4 linked regions of the Homo sapiens genome follow. The protein of the gene in region 1 purifies or fractionates together with the protein of each later gene. This does not show direct contact. Each region holds a gene or a part of one and is shown in the gene's direction. Other genes may lie near its edges.

Region 1 (5,047 bases):
AATGTTATTGAGATGATTTTTATTCCTAAAATCACAGGTTTGTTGGTCTTACTTTTTCTGGTCTCAGCTTTTGAATTTATTATCAATTGGTTACTGCATGTTACTATTCTGCTGCCTACTCTCACCCTGCAATCAACATTTCTAAAGCTAATTTTTCCCCCAAACCAAATAACCTTTCTTGGTATCCTTATTTCTGTCTCCTTTTTATCCAAGCCCCAGCTCTGGATTTTTTTTTTTTTTTCATCTCCAGCTACTCATTTCCTCCTTAATGTGTTTTCCTCCAATGTGTGTCTTTGTCACCTCAACTTGCATCTGTCTCCAAGCTGGATCCTTATCTTTGAGGTCTCTTACTTCCAGCTTGTGTGACCACTGCCAGAGCAATCTTCCAAAAGCACATTTTGGGCATATCACTTCCTGCTCAAAAACCAATTACAAGACTTGTTTAAAAAATAGTTTCTGGCCGGACACAGCGGCTCATGCCTGTAATCCCAGCACTTTGGGAGGCCAAGGCAGGTGGATCCCCTGAGGTCAGGAGTTTGAGAGCAGCCTGGCCAACATGGTGAAACCCCATATCTACTAAAAATACAAAAATGAGCTAGGCGTGGCGGCACGTGCCTGTAGTCCCAGCTACTCAGGAGGCTGAGGCAGGAGAATCGTTTGAACCCAGGAGGTGGAGGTTGCAGTGAGCCATGATCAGGCCCTGCACTCCCGCCTGGGTGACAGAGTGAGACTACAACTCAAAAACAACAACAAAACAACAACAACAACAAAACCCCAGCTTCTTCCAGGTCTATGGCAGGGTAAGCTCAAAATGAACCTGGAACATCTTGTGCCAGAAAGCAAGAAAATGTTCAAAGAATGACATGAGTATGTCAAAGGGCATAGGAGTTGACCTACAGGGATGTTCACATTGGCCGAATTTGGACCATCTGTGCATCTAAAAGAATAATCGCATTTATGGATTATAGCACAATGAATTAGAAGATCTGTGAGTCCAGAAAATATAGACAGAGGCAAAGGAGAGAGGAATGGGAAATGGAAGTTGTTCTGTGCAGAAAAATGATAACATAAATGCAGATAAATTATAGCATTATGAAAGCAGCACATTGGAACCACAGTGATTGCTGGTAATCAATGAATATGAGGATCATCAGTGGATGCTAAATCCATCAGTTGAAATGTTATTAAGAAACAGAATATGACACTGTCTCAAAGCATCACCTTGGCAGTTATTTACTAATTGCCAAGAGGAAAATGTACCTATCCAGGGAAGAGATCTGAAGGATACTCTTAACCAAGAGATCAAACTTAGCACCACCCTTAGCATGAAAGGCCCACAATGTACACCACACCCATTAAGTATTCTCGCTAAAATGTTTGAATTCAATTGTGAGAAAATAATCAGAAAAGCCCAGAATGTGAGACATCTACAAGACAACTGTCAGGGATTCTTAAAAACAGTTTAACACCCCAAAAAACAAAAAGGCAGAAAGACTAGTGTAAATTAAAGGAAACTAAAGAGATGTAGTCTTGTACATAAACCTTTATTGGATCCTGTACAAAAAAAATTTAAAAGTTACAAAATAATAGAATGTTTTTATTCTTAGGAGGTGTATGCTGAAATATTTAGGGGTGAAATATCATAATGTCTGCAACCTAATGGCTCAGTAACAAAAACACATAATAAATACATATTTGTATATATGTACAGGTGTACATATATACTTTGCATGAATATATACACACATACACACAGAGAAAGAGAGAAAGCACAAACAAATATGGTAAAATATTCATGTAGGTGATTCTAGATAAAGGATATGTAGGGGTTTATTGTGCTATACTTTCAACTTTTTTGTAGATTTGACATTTTTTAAGGTTGGGAGGAGGGAAGTCCCTTGCCCTGAAGGATAAAGTCCAGATTTCTTAACCTGGCATTCAAGGCCAGCTCTGGCCTGGATCTACCAAGCTGTACTCACTTTTTAAGCTACTCAAGGGCTGAATTGTGCCCTATCAACCTTGTTTTCCCAGCATTAGTACCATGTCAATCTGTCTTCAGAGCCTTTCTCCTCACTCATCTGAATAAACCCCTCTTAGATTAAACCTACTTTCTCACAACTCTGGTTGCACTGATCTGCCTGTGAATAACACCCATTCTCTCTACTCAAATGAAAACACCCCCCTCTCCATCAATCCTATCGTCACTTGAATATGAATATAAATTTCAATACTATACCTGACATTTTCCTTTATATTGTTGTAAAGATATTTTAATATCTTTATAAGAGGAAAGCAGAGGTCATAGCTTATAATTCTTAGAGAACCCACTCTACCTAGAAAATAACAGGTCTTCAATAGATAGTTATGGGTTGATTGATCACATCCTTCACTGCATTTTCATAAGAGGAGATCATTATTTTGATATCAAAATTCCACAAGGAAAGAATAAATTTAGTAAATTACCTAGTTACCTCTATGTGATGCCAAACTAAACGTTATTTAAAAGCTTATTTTTAAGATCAAATAGGTTTGGATTACTTTTTTTTTTATTTCTATGTGGGCATTTAGTATTGTATAGACTGCATGAGCTTGGGTGAATAGGGGAATGTAGCTATCTGATAATTTATCCACAATATCCCCTTGTCGCATTCTATGGTACTAACCTGCTTCTATGTTTTAATTTAGACACTGCTGTCAATTATCTTTTCTTCCCTCGGAATTGCTTTTTCTGGATACTGCCTGGTCATCTCTGCCTTGGGTCTTGTCCAAGGGCCATATTGCCGCACCCTTGATGGCTGGGAGTATGCTTTTGAAGGCACTGCTGGACGGTAAGGAATAATTCCCCAAACCAAGGAGGTCGGAAAATCAGAAACACCTTGCCTCATGCTCAAGCTCACGCTCATTTTCCATGATCACTTTGGGGTTCCATGTGGCTGTTTTAGTGCAGAATTTCCCTGTTAGTTTACTAATATCCAGACCAATTTGTTCTTGCACAGATCTTTGTTTAGATTTTTTTCTTCAGTCTTTTAATGCCATTTTCATTCAATGTCTTGAGGTTGTCATGGAGCTATCCAAATGAAAGGTGTGTTTCTCCCATACCTCAGATTAAAGTTGTGTGGTTACTATGGTCTGGTCTGGTAACAGCTGGAGCTTATGGACTGGGTGGATCCAGGAACTCAGTTTTGTTTTATGGCCAGGTTGGACATGTGGTCTGTTACAAGTGTAAAAGGGCTTGAGGAGGAGAGAAACCATGGTGCTCTTGGATGGTGCCACTCAGGGCTATAGTAGGAGGGATGATAAAGAGATAGAACAAGGCAGGATGAGCAGGAAAGTACAGTCTGAGGTCCAGGAACATGATTAGGTGCAGGAGTTTGTGGAATGAGCCAGAGCTTATGCAGCTTATACTGGAGAAGGGTCTAAAGAGGTAGCCTTGCTCAGAAGGCTAGTAATTCAGTCAGGAGTCTCACAACCCAATCCCGGATCTCAGAATGCCTCACACTGGCATTGTGCTGGGCTTATTGGGTTCCCAGCACCAGATGCAGATTAGGAGGTAGCAGGGCCCAGAAAGAAATACAGAAGAGGTCCAGAATTCTAATGGAGTAAAATGAGGGAATGTCTGTACCATTCACTGGGGGAAGTTAAATTTTCTTCTCAACTCTCCATGATTAGCTTTATTGTTCAAGGCCCATGTCCATCTGAGGTCTTACATGTGCATCTAGGCCTACATGGCAGAGCTGCTTCTGTGACTGTAGCTGCCTTCATTCTGAAGATTTTTACATGGTGCCATATACCATGACCTTTCTTAGCAAACATGACTCTCCCTCAGGTCTCTCCTACTTGCATATCCATTTATAGGCTCTCTGCAAGAAGAAAAATATGGCTCTTTTTGCCCAACCCCACAGGCAGTCAGACCTTATGGTTGTCTTCCCTTGTTCCCTAAAAATCTCTGTTATTCTGCTCTTTTTCAATGTGCACTGATTTCATATTGTTCAAACCACATGTTTTACAATCAATTTGTACAGTTAACACAATTATCACAGTGGTCCTGAGGTGGTGTACATCCTCAACTTATGAAGATAACAGGATTAAGAGATTAGAGTAAAAACAGGCATAAGAAATTATAAAAGTATTATTTGGGAACTGATAAATGTCCATGAAATCTTCACAATTCATGTTTCTCTGCCGCGGCTCCAGCCAGTCCCACCATTTGGGGTCCCCGACTTCCTGCAACATTGCAAGTCATCTTGTTTTAAATTGCTAGATGATCTGTGCAGAGCATGTACTAGGAACAGTCTAGAGGAGGGATCTGGAGGGACTCATTTCCCTGGCAGCTGAGATGGAGATAGGGGTAAATGGGGGTATGAGATAGGTTTAGGGAAATTTAACAGAAAGCCACATCTGTATTGTACTTTACAGGTTCCAAACTGTTTGTATACACATTCTTACCAAATATTCACAATAACTCTGGGGTTAGATATTTTAACCCCATTATCAAGATAAGAGTCTGGAGGGCCAGGCGCGGTGGCTCATGCCTGTAATCCCAGCACTTTGGGAGGGTGAGGCAGGCAGATCATGAGGTCAGGAGATCGAGACCATCCTGGCTCACACGGTGAAACCCCGTCTCTACTAAAAAAATACAAAAAATTAGCCGGGCGTGGTGGCGGGTGCCTGTAGCTACTTGGGAGGCTGAGGCAGGAGAATGGCGTGAACCAGGGAGGCGGAGCTTGCAGTGAGCGAAGATGCGCCACTGCACTCCAGCCTGGGCGACAGAGCAAGACTCCGTCTCAAAAAAAAAAAAAAAAGTCTGGAGGCCAGAGGGGTAAAGTTCTTTGCTCAACATCCTGCAGACCCAAATCCAGGAATTCTGATTTCATATTCTGTGCTCTTTCCCATTGGAGACAAGAGCCATTAACAATATAAAGAAATTCTCAGAGTGCCTCTATTTCCTGGAGCATTAGAAAGTAGAAAATAAATAAAGGTGGGGAAAGAGTAAAAAAGAAGGAAGTAGGAAAGAAATGGAAGAGGGAGAAAGAAAAACAAAGAGGCC
Region 2 (5,047 bases), about 41 Mb from region 1:
ATGGCTTTATCTATTAGAATGTGTACCTTTTTATACTAAGTAAAAGGGGAGAGATCTTTGAGGATCCATTTTAAGTAATAGAATAGGATTTTTAATTGTTCCAGTGTTTCTGTGATAGAGCTGTCCTGCACAGACCTGTTTGTTTGTCACTTGCTCTTTTTCTTGCAGACATAGACACCCCAGACAGGAATTAAAATTCACAATCTATCAATTTTGTTCATTTAAAGAGCAGTGACCTCTAATGCATGACTTTAAAACAGTTCTAGTTAAAACCAATATAATGAAAACATTGAGTTTCAAAATTTAGGCTTTTACTCCTTTTAAAATCAATTATTAGTAAGTATGGAATTTACTTCATTGTTTCTAACTTGTATATTTAATCTGCCAATTTTCAAGTAACATTTCTGCATAAATTCTTATTTTTTATTGAGATATATGTACACAGAGAGATATTTTCAATTGTGCCTGAAACTAATGTTATCTTACCTAAGCTCAAGATGTTCCCAATAATGTAATTTATATTAGTTTCCGTTTTTTAAAAAAATTATATTTTTATGAAATAAAACATACTCTTAACCACCTATCAAAATAATCAAAAGTTATAAATTAATGGAGTAAAAAAATAGTGTTTCTGCTTTGCTTTAGGTAAACTTTGCTGTATGTGTTTCTAAAACTTAATACGAAACTTGAATTGTTATAGTCAAATAATTTCTCATATGACTCACATAATAGTTTCAAAAAACTTTTACCTTTATTTCTGAACTTTGGTTCTTGATGATTGTTAATTGAATTCAATTCTGTCATATATTCTGTGTCTTTCTTTAATTAATGCTTATTAGATAAATAATTAAAATACTTAACTAAAATCTGCGTATCCTTAGCATATGAGTTCATAAGTCTTAGTTGTTGCTCAATGAAATTTTCTAATTTTATACCACATAATGCCATAAAATACAATGGAGACATCTAAAGCAGAATGGAATTCATGTGGTAGCTACAGTGAACATCTTGAATGTTGGTGCATATTCTATTTTTGTTACATCTTCCAATCACCATGTGTCTGGTTCTGGAAGATGACACTCCTGGTTTTGTTGCTCCCCACAAATGCCTGAGAATAGTGTGTGATTTGCAGTATCCATACAACTCTGGTGAAGTAGTATGAGATACCTTTGGCTGACGGGCAGCACGCTCTTATTTTTTCCTCACTATCTGGGTTGTCCTCCCTTTTACTCCCATGCCACCCCATGCCTTCCATATCTAGCATAGAATGATCTTCAGTACAGTTGCCAGCAGGTCTGGTGACAATGTCTCAAGTGGAACTAAGCATTGTCTATCTGCCACCTCCTTAACTTCACTCTCCTGCCTTCTCCATCACTTACGTTCCTCCAAGCCTGTGAAACCACTGTACTGTACCTGTCACTGTTCTGACATTAAAATTAAAATGACTTAAATCTTGACAAGTACCCCAAATTATTTTTTCTTTGTCATAGGTTAGCATATAAGTATACTATATGCTAAAATTTATGCTATATGTTTAAAATTTAGTGCAATTTTATTGATAGTGTCCTAATTTTATTGATAGTATCCTAAATTAACTTTTTAAATCAACTTGTCTGATGCCAGGGTTCAGAGGGACACCTACAGTCAGTTGAAAGGCAAGAAGAGACAAGGTACAGGAAAGTTGCTCTTTAGATAACATGGTAGACTAGGAGGAACATTAATATGGTTTGCTTATATAATCTGACTGTGTAAATCTGAATCTATGTAACATTAAGGTTGCAAATTTGAGCGTTTATATTAGGAAGTTAAAATTTTAAGTGTCTCCAAAATAATTTTTACTCATTGCACGTGTTCTGTTTTAGAAAAGCCTAATGATTGTGTTTTGATTTAAATGCAATAAAATCCTCAAATAGTTAAAAATCCAAGCTTTCTCTTCAAGAAGAAGTTAATGTCGCTATGAGATTTTTAACTTTTATAATTTTTATTATTTCCAACTTTAAATTTGTAGCCTTAATTTGCTATTTTAAAGAGTAGGCCTTTCACTTTCTACAACTTTCTGTGAAAGTGACTTTCACTTTCTATTTTTTAACTTTTTAAACTGTGTTGTATTTTTTTTCTTTTATTGGAAGCATTTTAATTTTATAAGATGAGAAAAAGGACTGGGCACAATAACTTAATGTGAAAGCATAGAAAAGATTACAAGAACCTAACCAAACTCACTAAAGTTGGGCTTGTTGTTTGTAGAGAACGTTTATATAATTATAAGGATCAATACTTTCTCATTTTTAAAGCCATTACCAGTTAGTTCAATATAAGGGCATATAGTGTTTTGATACAAATCAATCTGGTAGCAGTAAGTACCATATTTACCACAACATCCCAGATATTTTAGAATGATGCAGATGCAGAATATATACGTAGAATTTATATCTATGTATAGATACAAATTCAGATATTTTCTTGTTCAATTTAAGGAGAGGTAAATTTGGTATCAATAGAAAAAATGTTTCTGAAAAATTTAAACCCTGGAAATGTATTTATGGCATGGAGTCAGATGTTTCAGGGAGAGAAGAACAAATCAAGAAGCATTGCAAGTATGCTCATATGGAATGCTTAAGGCTTGTGGTTAAAAAATATATATATATGGCTGTCAATGTCTTAGGCTCATGGTAGCAGCAGAAATCGTAATAATTCTTTTGTCACATGGGTTATATCCATATTGGAGAGAATTAACTCAGGTGAAATTAACTTGTACACTGTTTGGTTTTATAATATTTAGAGGGATCACAACTGACTGATGTCCCTTTGAAGTACCATTCTTCATAAATCTTTTTTTTTCAGAATGGGCCAGCCAACTGTGACATCCCTTGGATCGGAGATTTAGAACTAGAAAGTATTCTTTCTACATTATTAGGGAAGAAAAGGAGTTACTTGGCGGTTAGCAATATTCTATTTTGTTTTGTTTTGTTTTTAGAGACAGGGTCTCATTATGTTGACCAGGCTGGCCTCGAGCTCCTGGGCTCAAGCAATGCTCCCACCTCAGCCTCCCAAGTAGCTGGGACTACAGGCATGTGCCACTACACCTGGCAGTGTTTATTCTGATAAATACATTTATGAGCTCAAAAATGTAACTCTAAAACCTTATCTCTGAACTTCCATATTACCATCAGAAATTTAGATAGTTGTTTAGTTCTCTTTTTCTTTGTAGAACATAGATATAAGGCATGGTTTCATTGAAGTCAGTTGTATATACATGTAACTATCCTGATGTTCCCAAATAAAGCTCTGTATTTCTGCTTAGTTTATTGGGGAGGCTGCTAAATGTAGTGCATCCCAACCCATTTTACCCTGTTCTACTTTAAAAAGAGGTTGGCTTCTTGTTTGGATACAAGGACCAAGTCACTCCCCCAGGTTCCTCCACAGTAAGGGAGGCCTATTTAAAGCCGCCCATGGCACTAACAGAAACTGGACTCCTATGAGCTCAGATACATAACTGGGCCTCACAGGGGTGGGACAGTATGTAGTCTAGGAATTGGAAGGATCCATTCCATATCAAAGAACTGAAGCATCGTGTTGCCCTCTCAGCAGCAAGAGTAAGGTGATGCCCCTGTCAGTTATAGTTCCTGAGTTCCTCTGTCTTTGATTCTTTGCCTATTAGCCAGCTAGCTCACCCTCTTGTTTATGCCACTGTTTTTTATCCTATTCATGCCTTCTCACAGACAACTTTTCTTACCTACAGCTTTGGACTCATCCTTGTCTCCTTTCTGTTTCTTTTTCACTTTCCCTTCCCATCACCAACTTTCTGGGTTTTTTTCTGTTTCTTCTTAGAGTCCAGTGGCAGGGAGAAACTTGTCAGTCCAGTCTGTTGCCATTTTTCCTGTTTGAGAAAGACTCACCAGCTTTTGGCTGGCTCACAGATTGGCTTTCCTTGGGTCAGGACCCACCCTTTTCCCTGCCAGCTTTGGAAGCTTGACAGAATTCGAGTGTGCAGTGGTGGTAAATAAATAGTAAGGAACACAGAGCAGTCCTGGAGGCGTGCCTCCATCTGCTGATGAGAAAATCCAGTGCTGTCATCCAGCCCAGGTCCCAGCGGAATGGGCCTCTCTGTTCAGTAGGATCCCCCTCCTGCTGAGTGGTTCATGGCATGTTTCTGTTCAACGCTTTTCCATCTGTAGGATTCTTATTCTGTATTTATTTGTTTTTTTGGGTTTTTTTATTTTTTGAGATGGAGTCTCGCTCTGTCGCCCAGGCTGGAGTGCAGTGGCACGACCCCAGCTCGCTGCAGCCTCTGCCTCCCAGGACGAGGGAGATCCTCCCACCTCAGCCTTCCACGTAGCTGGGACTACAGGCATGCACCACAGGCATGCACCACCACGCCAGCTAATTTTTGTATTTTTGGTAGAGACAGGGTTGCATCATGTTGCCCAGGCTGGTCTTGAATGCCTGAGCTCAAGCAATCTATTTGCCTTGGCCTCCCAAAGTGCTGGGATTACAGGCATGAGCCACCACGGCCAGCCTTCTCATTTGTTTTTTTTATAAGGAAGCTATCTCTTCTTCCCTCCCCAACTAGGGTATTCTTTTTCCCTTTCGTCACTTTGCTCATGTACTGTATTCCTTCAACTTCATTAATGAATCCATTTGGAAGCAGTGAAAAAGGCAACTCAGAAAGCTAAGAAGAAATAGATAGAGGAATACTCAGAGCTATCTGAGTATTTTCTTTAGTTTGTTAGCTCTTTGGAGCTTTGAAACTGGAAAGACCCAGGGAGTGATGTGGAGAAAGAGACTGAGCTTGTAAGACACAGGAGCAGTGAGCTAAGGGAGATGGAGTAGTGGGGACAAATTCTGGCACATTCTGTCTACACTCTGGGTAGATAGAGGAGGGAGGATGGAGCACCCATGGTGGGGGTATGTTGGTGACAGCATTTTCCCACCAGCCAGTGTAACAAGTGGCTGATTTGGGGGAAAGATGGCATAAACAAATGAGAGAATGTGTTTACTATTTGATGTAGATGGGTTATTTGCTTCATTTTTCAAATCAGTGTATATA
Region 3 (5,279 bases), on another chromosome or scaffold:
TTCAGGAGGCGGGGCAACAGGACTTGGTGACTGAGCAGATTTTCTACCCAGTGCCTCAGTTTCCCACCCACTGCCTCAGTTTCCCTTTTGCTACGCAGAGGAGATAGACCCTCCCTGCTGACCTGAGCCCGGGAGCCTGACCCAGGGCATGTGGAAAAATGGCCCGTCCCTCAGTCTCTTTAACCACTGAGTTTGGAGGTCTCCCTGGCAGATCATCTCGCTATGAGGAGCCTGGTGAAGACTCTGGGATCAGCGAGACCTGAGTTCGAAGCCCAACTCCGCTACCAGCTCTTTTTTTTTTCTTTTTTGTGGTGACGGAGTCTCGTTCTGTCGCCCAGGCTGGAGTGCAGCAGTATGATTTCGGTTCATTGCAACCTCCATCTCCCAGGTTTAAGCGATTCTCATGCTTCAGCCTCCCGAGTAGCTGGCATTACAGGCGTGCACTACCACGCCCGGCTAATTTTTGTATTTTTAACAGAGACGGGGTTTCCATGTAGGCCAGGCTGGTCTCGAACTCGTGACCTCAAGTGATCCACCTGCCTCGGCCTGCCAAAGTGCTGAGATTACAGGCGTGAGCCACTGCACCCAGCCTCTGCCACCAGCTGTATGGCCTCCTCTTGGTTCCTTTCTCTGTAACCTGGGGAGTGCAGTAGCACCTGCCCAGTGGGGCTCTTGAGCCCAGGAACTGCTACACTCTGAACCCCACTCGTACTAGGGGCTCAGTAACAAGCAGCCGCCAGTGTGGTTCCTATATCCCGGGACTTCGCCTGTCTCCTGCGGATCACAGCCAGTGACTACTGTGCTCTTGGAGAAAGGTCCAGCCTCCAGCTTCCCAGGCTTCATTTGCATCCATCTCGCAGGCCCCAGCTCAGGCTCGTGCCCACCCACCAAGTTCCAGTGCCGCACCAGTGGCTTATGCGTGCCCCTCACCTGGCGCTGCGACAGGGACTTGGACTGCAGCGATGGCAGCGATGAGGAGGAGTGCAGTGAGTGGCCACGCCCCTTGGCGGGGCTTACAGGGGGCGGGGCCTGAGGGTGGTTTGTCAGGGGCCAGGCACGCGGAGGTGGAGCTTGTGGGAAAGGCAGGGCCGCAGGGATGGGTGCGACTTGGGTCTGTGGGTCATAAGAAGCGGGGTCTAAGATGGGCTTGGGCTGGGCGCAGTGGCTCACGCCTGCAATCCCAGCACTTTGGGAGGCTAGGGTGGGAGGATCGATCACTTGATCCTGGGAGGTTGCCGCTGCAGTGAGCTAGGATTGTGCCAGTGCACTCCAGCCTGGGCAACAGAGTAAGACTGTCTCAGGAAAAAAAAAGAAAAAGAAAAAAAAAAGAAAAATGAAAGAAAGGAAAGAAAGGAAGGAAAGAGAGAGGGAGGGAGCCAGGTACGGTGGCTCACACATGTAATCCCAGCACTTTGGGAGGCCAAGGCAGGCGGATCACTTGAGGTCAGGCGTTCGAGACCAGCCTGGCCAACACAGTGAAACCCCATCTCTACTAAAAATACAAAAGTTAGCTGGATGTGGCGGCAGGCCCCTGTAATCCCAGCTAGTCAGGAGGCTAAGGCAGGAGAATCACTTGACCCTGGGAGGCAGAGGTTTCAGTGAGTCGAGATTGCGCCACTGCACTGCAGCCTGGGCAGCAAAGGGAGACCCCGTCTCAAAAGAAAAAATAAAGAAAGAAACAAACAAACAAATAGAATAAAGTGGGCTTGTAGGAAGGTAGAGCTAGTGGGGTCTCAGGGGAAGAGCTTGCAGGGAGGCCTGTCCTTAGAAAGTGGAGTTAACAGTTGCAGGGGGCGGAGCCTTAGGAAGGGAGCATTTTTTTGGGCTCAGCTGTTCTTAGAGGGTGGGGCTTGCAGGGGATGGGGTTTCAGGGAGTACCTGGGCCTTCTTGGGTGGGCATTTGGGACCTGACCAACCCTGTGCCCCAGGGATTGAGCCATGTACCCAGAAAGGGCAATGCCCACCGCCCCCTGGCCTCCCCTGCCCCTGCACCGGCGTCAGTGACTGCTCTGGGGGAACTGACAAGAAACTGCGCAACTGCAGCCGCCTGGCCTGCCTAGCAGGCGAGCTCCGTTGCACGCTGAGCGATGACTGCATTCCACTCACGTGGCGCTGCGACGGCCACCCAGACTGTCCCGACTCCAGCGACGAGCTCGGCTGTGGTATGCACCTGCGGGGCTGGGGTGGACTCGTGGGTAGATGGGGACACCCACTGCCTGCTGGGGCGTGGCCAGGCTGGGGGCGTGGACACATGCCTTTGCCCGTGCCTGCATCCCTGTGGGGGAATCAAGACATCATTAGGGGCCGGGCCCGGTGGCTCACGCCTGTAATCCCAGCACTTTGGGAGGCTGAGGTGGGCGGATCATCTGAGGTCAGGATTTCGAGACCTGCCTGGCAAACACTGCGAAACCCCGTCTCTACTAAAAGTACAAAAAAATTTGCTGGGCATGGTGGCACACACCTGTAATCCGAGCTACTCAGGAGGCTGAGTCAGGAGAACCGCTTGAACCTGGGAGGCAGAGGTTGCAGTGAGCTGAGATTGGGCCACTGCACACCAGTCTGGGTGACAGCAAAACTCTGTCTCAAAAAAATTTAAAAAAGGCCGGGCACGGTGGCTAACGCCTGTAATCCTAGCACTTTGGGAGGCCGAGGCAGGCAGATCACCTGAGGTGAGGTGTTCGAGACCAGTCTGGCCAACATGGCGAAATCCTGTCTCTACTAAAAATACAAAAGTTAGCTAGGCGTGGTGGCGTGCACCTGTAATCCCAGCTACTCGGGAGGCTAAGACAGGATAATTGTTTGAACTCAGGAGGCAGAGGTTTCACTGAGCCAATATTGCGCCACTGCACTCCAGCCTGGGTGGCAGAGCCAGACTCCCTCTCCAAAAAAAAAAAAAAAAAAAGACATAATTACGGGCAGTCAGCTTCACCCAGCCTGGTTGGTTGAGGATAAACCCCAAGGGCTCCCCTGGGCATCTGGCCCCCTCACGCCTTCAGTGCTCTCTCCTCAACTACTGAACGCCTGGGCTTATTGCAGGAACCAATGAGATCCTCCCGGAAGGGGATGCCACAACCATGGGGCCCCCTGTGACCCTGGAGAGTGTCACCTCTCTCAGGAATGCCACAACCATGGGGCCCCCTGTGACCCTGGAGAGTGTCCCCTCTGTCGGGAATGCCACATCCTCCTCTGCCGGAGACCAGTCTGGAAGCCCAACTGCCTATGGGGTTATTGCAGCTGCTGGTAAGAGGGACTTACCCTCCCATGCTGGGGGCTTAGAGCTCCGGGGATTCAGGGGAGGTGGGTGGGGAGGGATGAGCTGCAGAACTCCCATCCCCATGTGTATGGAGCTTGGTGGGTGTGGGGGCTCTTGCCTTCCCCCTCCTTACTCCTCTGTCCATCTGTTCCCCACAGCGGTGCTCAGTGCAAGCCTGGTCACCGCCACCCTCCTCCTTTTGTCCTGGCTCCGAGCCCAGGAGCGCCTCCGCCCACTGGGGTTACTGGTGGCCATGAAGGAGTCCCTGCTGCTGTCAGAACAGAAGACCTCGCTGCCCTGAGGACAAGCACTTGCCACCACCGTCACTCAGCCCTGGGCGTAGCCGGACAGGAGGAGAGCAGTGATGCGGATGGGTACCCGGGCACACCAGCCCTCAGAGACCTGAGCTCTTCTGGCCACGTGGAACCTCGAACCCGAGCTCCTGCAGAAGTGGCCCTGGAGATTGAGGGTCCCTGGACACTCCCTATGGAGATCCGGGGAGCTAGGATGGGGAACCTGCCACAGCCAGAACTGAGGGGCTGGCCCCAGGCAGCTCCCAGGGGGTAGAACGGCCCTGTGCTTAAGACACTCCTGCTGCCCCGTCTGAGGGTGGCAATTAAAGTTGCTTCACATCCTCCGCCTGCCTCTGGGTCTCTGTCTCCCTTGGCCTGGGCAGCCTGGGGTCGCTGCTGCAGCCCCTCCTCCATGAGAGCCCAGCCCATAGAAGGTGGGACATGGACACCCAGCCCTGTGTGCAGCTACTGTGCTGCTTGCTTTTTGGGAGCAGGGGCAGCAGGGCTGGGGTGGGGAGTCTGCGTTAACATCAGGATTCTTGGAAGAAGAGCAGAGCTTGGGCAGTGCCTTCCCATTCCCAGGTCTGGGGACCCCCACCCACTGTGGCTTCCTCCTCAGTGCAGTGGAAGCCAGGTTTCCTGGGATGGTCTCAGACTCACCCTGTTTTAATTATTTTTTAATTATGTTTTTAGAGACTGCGTTTTGGCCGGGCACAGTGGCTCACACCTGTAATCCCAGCACTTTGGGAGGCCGAGAGGTGGGCGGATCACCTGAGGTCAGGAGTTCGAGACCAGCCTGGCCAATATGGTGAAACCCTGTCTCTACCAAAAATACAAAAAATTGGTTGGGTGTGGTGGCAGGCGTCTGTAATCCCAGCTACTCGGGAGGCTGAGACAGGAGAATCCCTTGAACCTGGGAGGTGGAAATTGCAGTGAGCTGAGATCACGCCATTGTACTGCAGCCTGGGTGACAGAGTGAGACTCTGTCTCAAAAAAGAAAAAAAAGGTTTTATTATTTATCCTGGGCATCATAGGGATCTCTGCAAATTTTTTTTTTTTTTTTTTTTTTTGAGACAGAGTTTCGTTCTTGTTGCTGGGATTACAGGCATGTGCCACCCCACCTGGCTAATTTTGTATTTTTAGTAGATAAGGGGTTTCTCCATGTTGGTCAGGCTGGTCTTGAACTCCCGACCTCAGGTGATCCGCCCGCCTCGGCCTCCTAAAGTGCTGGGATTACAGGCGTGAACCACTGTGCCTGGCCTATACATTTTTTTTTAACTAGCTGTGGGTGGTGGTGTGCACTTGTAGTCTCAGCTACTTGGGAGGCTGAAGTAGGAGGATTGCTTGAGCCTGGGAGGTCCAGGCTGCAGTGAGCCGTGATCAGGCCACTGCATTCCAGCCTGCGTGTCACAGCAAGACTGTCTCAAAAAACAAACAAAAACAAGTAATGTACTTGAATCATCCTGAAACCATCCCCACCCCTGGTCCGTGGAAAAATTGTCTTCCATGAAACCAGTCCCTGCTGCCAAAAAGGTTGGTGACCGGTAAAGTTAATTCACACCCTGACTTCTGGGTGACAGGGCAAAGTTCCTCCCTTATCCTCAGCTTCTGAATCTCTGAATGGGATGTTGGGGGCCACAGTAGCCTCCTTGCAGGGGAGTGACCTCCCTGGGACCGTTAGAGATGGACTCAGATGGACCTGTTGCCCAGGTTGGAGTGCAGTAGTGTGATCA
Region 4 (5,581 bases), on another chromosome or scaffold:
TTTTATTCAAAGTCTTAGATCCCCAGGCTCCTGGCTGACTTGCACTGTTGGAACTAAGCAAAAGAGATTCCAAGAAGATCCCACAAGGATCTCGTGTTAGTCCATTTTGTGCTGCTAGTACAGAATACCTAAGGGGGGTAATTTACATTGAAGAGAAATTTATTGTATCATGGTTCTAGAGTCTGCAAATTCCAAGATGAGATGTTGGCATCTGGCAAAGGCCTTCCCAATATGTCATCCCATGGCAGAAGGGCAATGAGGGTTAGAAGGAGCAAGAGGTCAAATTTGCTGTCTCAGGCCCTTTTTATAGTGGCATTAATCCATTCATGAGGATGGAGCCCTTGGAACCTAAACATGCCCCAACATTGTTGCATTGAGGATTGAATTTCCAACACGTGAACTTTGGGGGACACATTCAAACCGTAGCAGATCCTCTCCATTCATCCTACCTCACCTGGCACGTAATTCACTTGCAGGCTAGGTGGGGAGACAAGAGTATCCACAGCCAAGAAGCCCACAGCTTCAGGGACCTGTGAACAGAAGTGGACCAGATAGGGGATGGCAAGGAGGAGGTCAGCACAAACTGTCTGCAGGGTGAGGTAGCTTCATTCTCTGCAGTGGGGACATGAGGTAGGGATCGGGGTTCAGGCACAGGGTCTGACTGTTTTATACCAAAGCAGGACAGATGGAAGTCAGAGGTGGACAAAGACTTTTCCTGTCACCTGTGACTCAGTCACAGAAGTGCCCAAATTGTCTTCTGGTCTGAGGACAGCAGAAGCTCAGGATACCTTTCTAGCAGGTAGATACAGGGAATGGTGTGGGATGAGGCAGAGGTTTGCTTCAGGTTCTCATCAAATTCCCCAGATCTGAAGCCAGCCCCTCTCAGGCCTGAACAGAAGCACTTCACCTGTTTATTTCTTGAAAAGCCATTCTATGTTGCTGCTTCCCACTTTTAGTTCTCAGAGGTGGCTTTCCTACTGTCCAGAAGACATAAACTTCTGTTTTCCCTGGAGTCACCTTAGCTTAAACTCCTATAATCTTGTTGAATCATCCCTGTGTTTGGCTAAACCAGGCTCCTCATACCCACGTTCCAGGGTCACACAGGTAACTTGGCTTGCTGCTTCTGGGGGCTCTGAATCCCACAATGCCGATCCACCACCTCTTCCCTGCTGCCACTAGTCTCCTGGGGTCTAGCCTCAACAGCTTCCACCAAGGACACACTGCATTGCTTAAGAGTGTATTTAAGGTGCGGCATTTGTGATGCTAGGGAGGAGCCTTCCTGACTTAATCACGTAGGGGGAGTGGGGAAAGAAGTGGGTATTTGGAAGGAGGGTGAGGTGGGCTGGGAATGCCAAGAAATGGTAGTACTGTGTGGTGAATCAAAGTGGGTCTTGGAATCTTCCTAGCTTTTCTTTTCTTTTCTTTTCTTTTTTTTTCTTTCTGACTTTTTATCTTATGTTGTCACTCACCATGTTTTGTTTTCCTCATCTGCAAAATGGATTGTTGTAAGCTTGAACAGGAATCATGCATAAAGTACTGAGCACAGTGCCTGGTACCTTGAAATCACTCAATGGAAGTTTCTTATTATTTGCCCTACACCCAAGGAGTAATTGGGGCCCTGAAGGAAGACACCCCAATTTGCCGTCCTCCCAGCCGCCAAGCCTGATAGTGCACTAGGGAGGCTGATGGGAAAATACCGTGCAGAAGGCTGAGGAGTGGGGATTCTGGGGCGGGACTCTTTGAAGTCCTAGGTGACCTCTCCGCCCAGGCACCCGCCCTCCCCGGGCCTGGGCTGCAGAGCTGCGGGCGGGGGCGGTGGCCCTGCGCTGCACCCGGCCTGCCTGCGCGTAGGCGGGCGGGCGGGGCTGCGCGTCCGGGCTCCCGGGGCTGGTAATATAGCGGCTCGCCGAGGCGCTGGTGCACGGGGGCAGCGCGCAGCAGGCCGGCGGGCAGGCGGGCGGGCTGGCTGGCAGGCAGGACTGGGATCGAGGCCCAGAAAACGGAGCAGCGGGCACCAGGGAGGCCTGGAACGGGGCGAGCGCCATGAGCAACAAATGCGACGTGGTCGTGGTGGGGGGCGGCATCTCAGGTTAGTCGCGGCTGTGCGCCCTCCTTCCTCTTCACGCGCTCGGACAGGTGGCTGCCTGGGGGAGACGCGGGGGGCGGCCGTGGGGCAGGGGCTGACCCTGGAGTCCCCAGACTGTCCACGCACGGGCAGGGCTCTAGTGGGTCCAGAGCGCCGTGCACTGAACCCTCCTTTGGGGGCAATTTTGGGTGCGTTCCCGGACGCAGAGGCCAGAGGCTGGAAGCCTGTTGCAGCTCTGGGGCCAGACTTTGAACTTCTCCCCCAGAAGGCTGCTAGGCCTTCGCTTGCTGGAATTTTCGAAGCCAGGGAAAAGGGGTGGGGAGGTGGCACAAAGGTCAGTCATTTGCTCCAACTTGACCTGGACACTCCGCACCCTCGCTTAGAGCAAGCATGCACCACATCGTATTGTTGTCCTGGCGTCAGGAAAACGACCTTGAACAGAAGAGGTTGGAGCCTGGCCAATCGATTGCCAAAGACTTTCCAGGCCCTCCTGATTCTTTGAGGTTCTGTGATTGTCACGGATCTAACTTGAGGCTGCAGTGTCTTTTTGGCAAATGCCTGTTTTCCTCTTATGCCTCTCGCACCCCCACTCCACCCCACCCCACTCCTAGCGCAGGGTGGCCAAGCTGCAGCTTTGCTCTCTGGCCTAGCCCATATTTGGCAAGGATGGGGACAGACACTACCCCCTCAGCCACACGGGGCTGTGTACATACCAAGGGCACCGAAAAATAGAAGCCAGAAGAAGGGATGGGGGTAGTGGTGGAACTTACCCTCTGTGGAGGATCAGGCAGATCCTATGGGATAGGGTCAATGGGAATCAATGATGCTCTCAGCACAGCCTGTTTAATGGCCCCCTGGGCATGCTTTGGCCCACCTCCTAACGCTGCCTAGTACTTGAGCAGTAATTAGGACACCTCCAGACCCGTGGATGCATTGTCTAAGACTTGCCTTAAGGAGTTCTCAAGTGGCCTTTGGGAAGTAGAGGTTGGCCTTGCTCCCTGCCAGGAGGGCAGGACAGAGTTGTTCTGACTCTCCTGTGGCTGGAGAAAAAACCAAGGCATTGGATGTTTGGTGCTGACCATGGTCCAGTCCTCCTGCCTCTGCTCCAGCCTTTCTCCCCTTTGGGTGGGATCTCAGGCTACCACATCTGTCTAGCAGGCTCTGGTGAGCTCGCCCATGCCAGGCCCTGTGCCTGGTGTTGCAGGTACATAGATGCGTAATCACAACATGCTGAGGTTGGCCAAGGCTGTGTATAAATTCAGTTTTCTTTCAGTATTTTTGACATCTTCTCTCCTAGAGGAAGTTGGACTTAAAAGCATACCTACTTAGGTGTTTTAGAAAATATTACTAAGTGCCTCTTGATGCTGCCTTGCATAGCACCCCATCTTACAGAAGCTGAAGTTTCTCTTTTCAGGCCCCCGAAGTCATTTTCTCACTAAAGTATGCCCAATGGATTCAGATTTTTCTATTTTCCCTTCATGATTTGTCCCTTTCTGATTCATACTCCACACCTTCAGGTTCAATCACATTACTCATGTTAGACTCATCTGGAAAAGGTAGATAAGGGTTTAACTATTTTTGCAAGCAGTGGTGAAACCTCTGCATTCATCCTCCCGAACTCTGATCAAAACAAGGTACTGATGAGTAGATCTGACTTTTCTCAAGAACATTCCACGGAATAGGCATTGTTCTAAGAACCAAGAAAGCAGCCTTCCAAGGCCCAGTCTTACTCAATTGCTTCATCTGCTACATGGGGATAACACCAGTTAGTCACTGCTGGATTACAGGGCAAGTGAAACAATGTGAGTAAAATAGCTTTGCAGAGTCTGAAATATGGCACAAGCCCCTCAAGAGTTTTACCCATTTATTCAGACAATAGGAATTGAGGGAGGCTGTGTAGGGGATTCAAAAATGGATCATGTTGTTCTTGCCCCGGAAGACTTGTCAATTCAAGAAGGGTGATGGGATACTCAGACAATACAAGGTAGAAGGTGGTGCGTGCCATGGGAGGGGTCCATTCATTGATTCATTATTCATTCATTCAATGAACATTTACTTCCTGTTCCACATTTTGTCCCAAAAGAAATAAAAGATGATTTATACAGGGCCATTGTTCCTGGGGCCCTCACAAGCTGATGTGGAAGACAGTCAAGAATAATTACTACTCTTTGGCATATGATAGGTGCTTTAATAGTGCATATAAAAAATTCTAGGGAAGGTGATTGGAGAGAACATCAAACTCTGTCTGAGAAAATCTAAGAACTCACAGAGTTGGTGACATCTGAACTATGTCTTCAGGAATGAATATGAATTCACCAGGGGACTAGATGAAGAAAGCATTTTTAAACTAAAGAGCAGCTTGTATAAAACCACAAATATGTGAAAGAACATGCTAACGTGTAGGATAACTTAAGAACTTCATTGCGGAGAGTTGCCAGAGGGGTCTGGTGGGAGAGAAAGCTAGAAAAGTCAGTTGGGATGAATTATGGGGAGGCTTGTATATCAGAAAGGTTTAGCTCTTTCTGTGATCAATGAATAGCACTGATGATTTTTTATTCAGAGTGCCATGCATCAAATGGCGTGTGTCACATCTGATGGTGATATTAGCAAAAAGAGGGATATGAAGAAGAGGGAGAGAAGGTTTTGGGAAAAGATAGGACGTCTAGAGTTGGAGGTTCTGGGAGGACACCCAGGGAGAGAAATCTAGCAGTTGGAATGAAATTGGGGTTACAAATGTGTACGATAGAGGTTTTAGTAGATGAAATGGCCAAAATCAAGAGTGTAGTGTGTAGAATTTTCGAATTAGTAGGTGACCAACACAATGATTTATGTTTAAAAGTCTCTGGATTTGACTCTGCGTTCTAAGCTTTGTTAATTATTAAACTTGGGACATTCTGGCAATTCCCTGATAATTTTTAAAGCTGTCAGCAAATTTTAATCACTCCCTTTGGGATAAACAGAGACATACTGGGAGGATAGCTGGTTAATACATAACTTTCTTTTTTGATGTTTTAAAAGTTCCAAGATAGTTGTAGACTAACTTTTTAGAAATGTGTATGGTGTATAAATGAGTATGCACTGAAATCTCTTTTACCCAAGGGGCAGATCATCTCCAGAGACTTGGCAGAGCAATGACATCTCCCACATGGAACTGGACAGCAGCACGTTGCATCTGTCCCGCGTCTCTCAGTTTTAGTGTTTGGGTGGGTGGAACCATGGAAACTATCTTTTGCAATTCTGGAATAGTTCTTGTTCAATCCCCAAAATAAAAACTAAAAAAGGCAACTTGAAGCAGAAACAAGAAAGTTTTGGCCAGACTTAGGAGAGGAGATTTGGTCATTTGAGGGTGGCAGGCACTTGTTTGAGATCCCTGGAAGTGTTGGAACCAGACTTCCAAATTGTAACCAACACCTGGCAGGTGATCTTTGTGGCAGGGAGAGCAAGCCTGGCTGCAGGCTAGTGGTACTGGCTTTGGCAGGGAATGTCAGAGATGGC

The links.
Region 2: the proteins of TM4SF18 (region 1) and CD47 purify together in Homo sapiens (affinity purification with mass spectrometry; 2 studies listed by BioGRID and IntAct, with this or other methods). This does not show direct contact.
Region 3: the proteins of TM4SF18 (region 1) and CD320 purify together in Homo sapiens (affinity purification with mass spectrometry; 2 studies listed by BioGRID and IntAct, with this or other methods). This does not show direct contact.
Region 4: the proteins of TM4SF18 (region 1) and MAOB purify together in Homo sapiens (affinity purification with mass spectrometry; one large-scale study listed by BioGRID and IntAct). This does not show direct contact.

What each region holds. Positions count from the first base shown.
Region 1 is NC_000003.12:149,322,661-149,327,707, reverse strand, and holds part of TM4SF18 (transmembrane 4 L6 family member 18), read left to right. Parts: intron 1-2,685; coding exon 2,686-2,828; intron 2,829-5,047.
Region 2 is NC_000003.12:108,052,143-108,057,189, reverse strand, and holds part of CD47 (leukocyte surface antigen CD47 isoform 1 precursor), read left to right. Parts: intron 1-1,623; exon of another isoform or gene 1,624-1,670; intron 1,671-2,841; exon of another isoform or gene 2,842-2,937; intron 2,938-5,047. UniProt on the Homo sapiens protein: Adhesive protein that mediates cell-to-cell interactions. Acts as a receptor for thrombospondin THBS1 and as modulator of integrin signaling through the activation of heterotrimeric G proteins.
Region 3 is NC_000019.10:8,300,738-8,306,016, reverse strand, and holds the end of CD320 (CD320 antigen isoform 1 precursor), read left to right. Parts: intron 1-860; coding exon 861-986; intron 987-1,928; coding exon 1,929-2,162; intron 2,163-3,036; coding exon 3,037-3,240; intron 3,241-3,411; coding exon 3,412-3,554; 3' UTR 3,555-3,890; downstream 3,891-5,279. UniProt on the Homo sapiens protein: Receptor for transcobalamin saturated with cobalamin (TCbl). Plays an important role in cobalamin uptake. Plasma membrane protein that is expressed on follicular dendritic cells (FDC) and mediates interaction with germinal center B cells.
Region 4 is NC_000023.11:43,878,762-43,884,342, reverse strand, and holds the start of MAOB (amine oxidase [flavin-containing] B), read left to right. Parts: upstream 1-1,892; 5' UTR 1,893-2,043; coding exon 2,044-2,089; intron 2,090-5,581.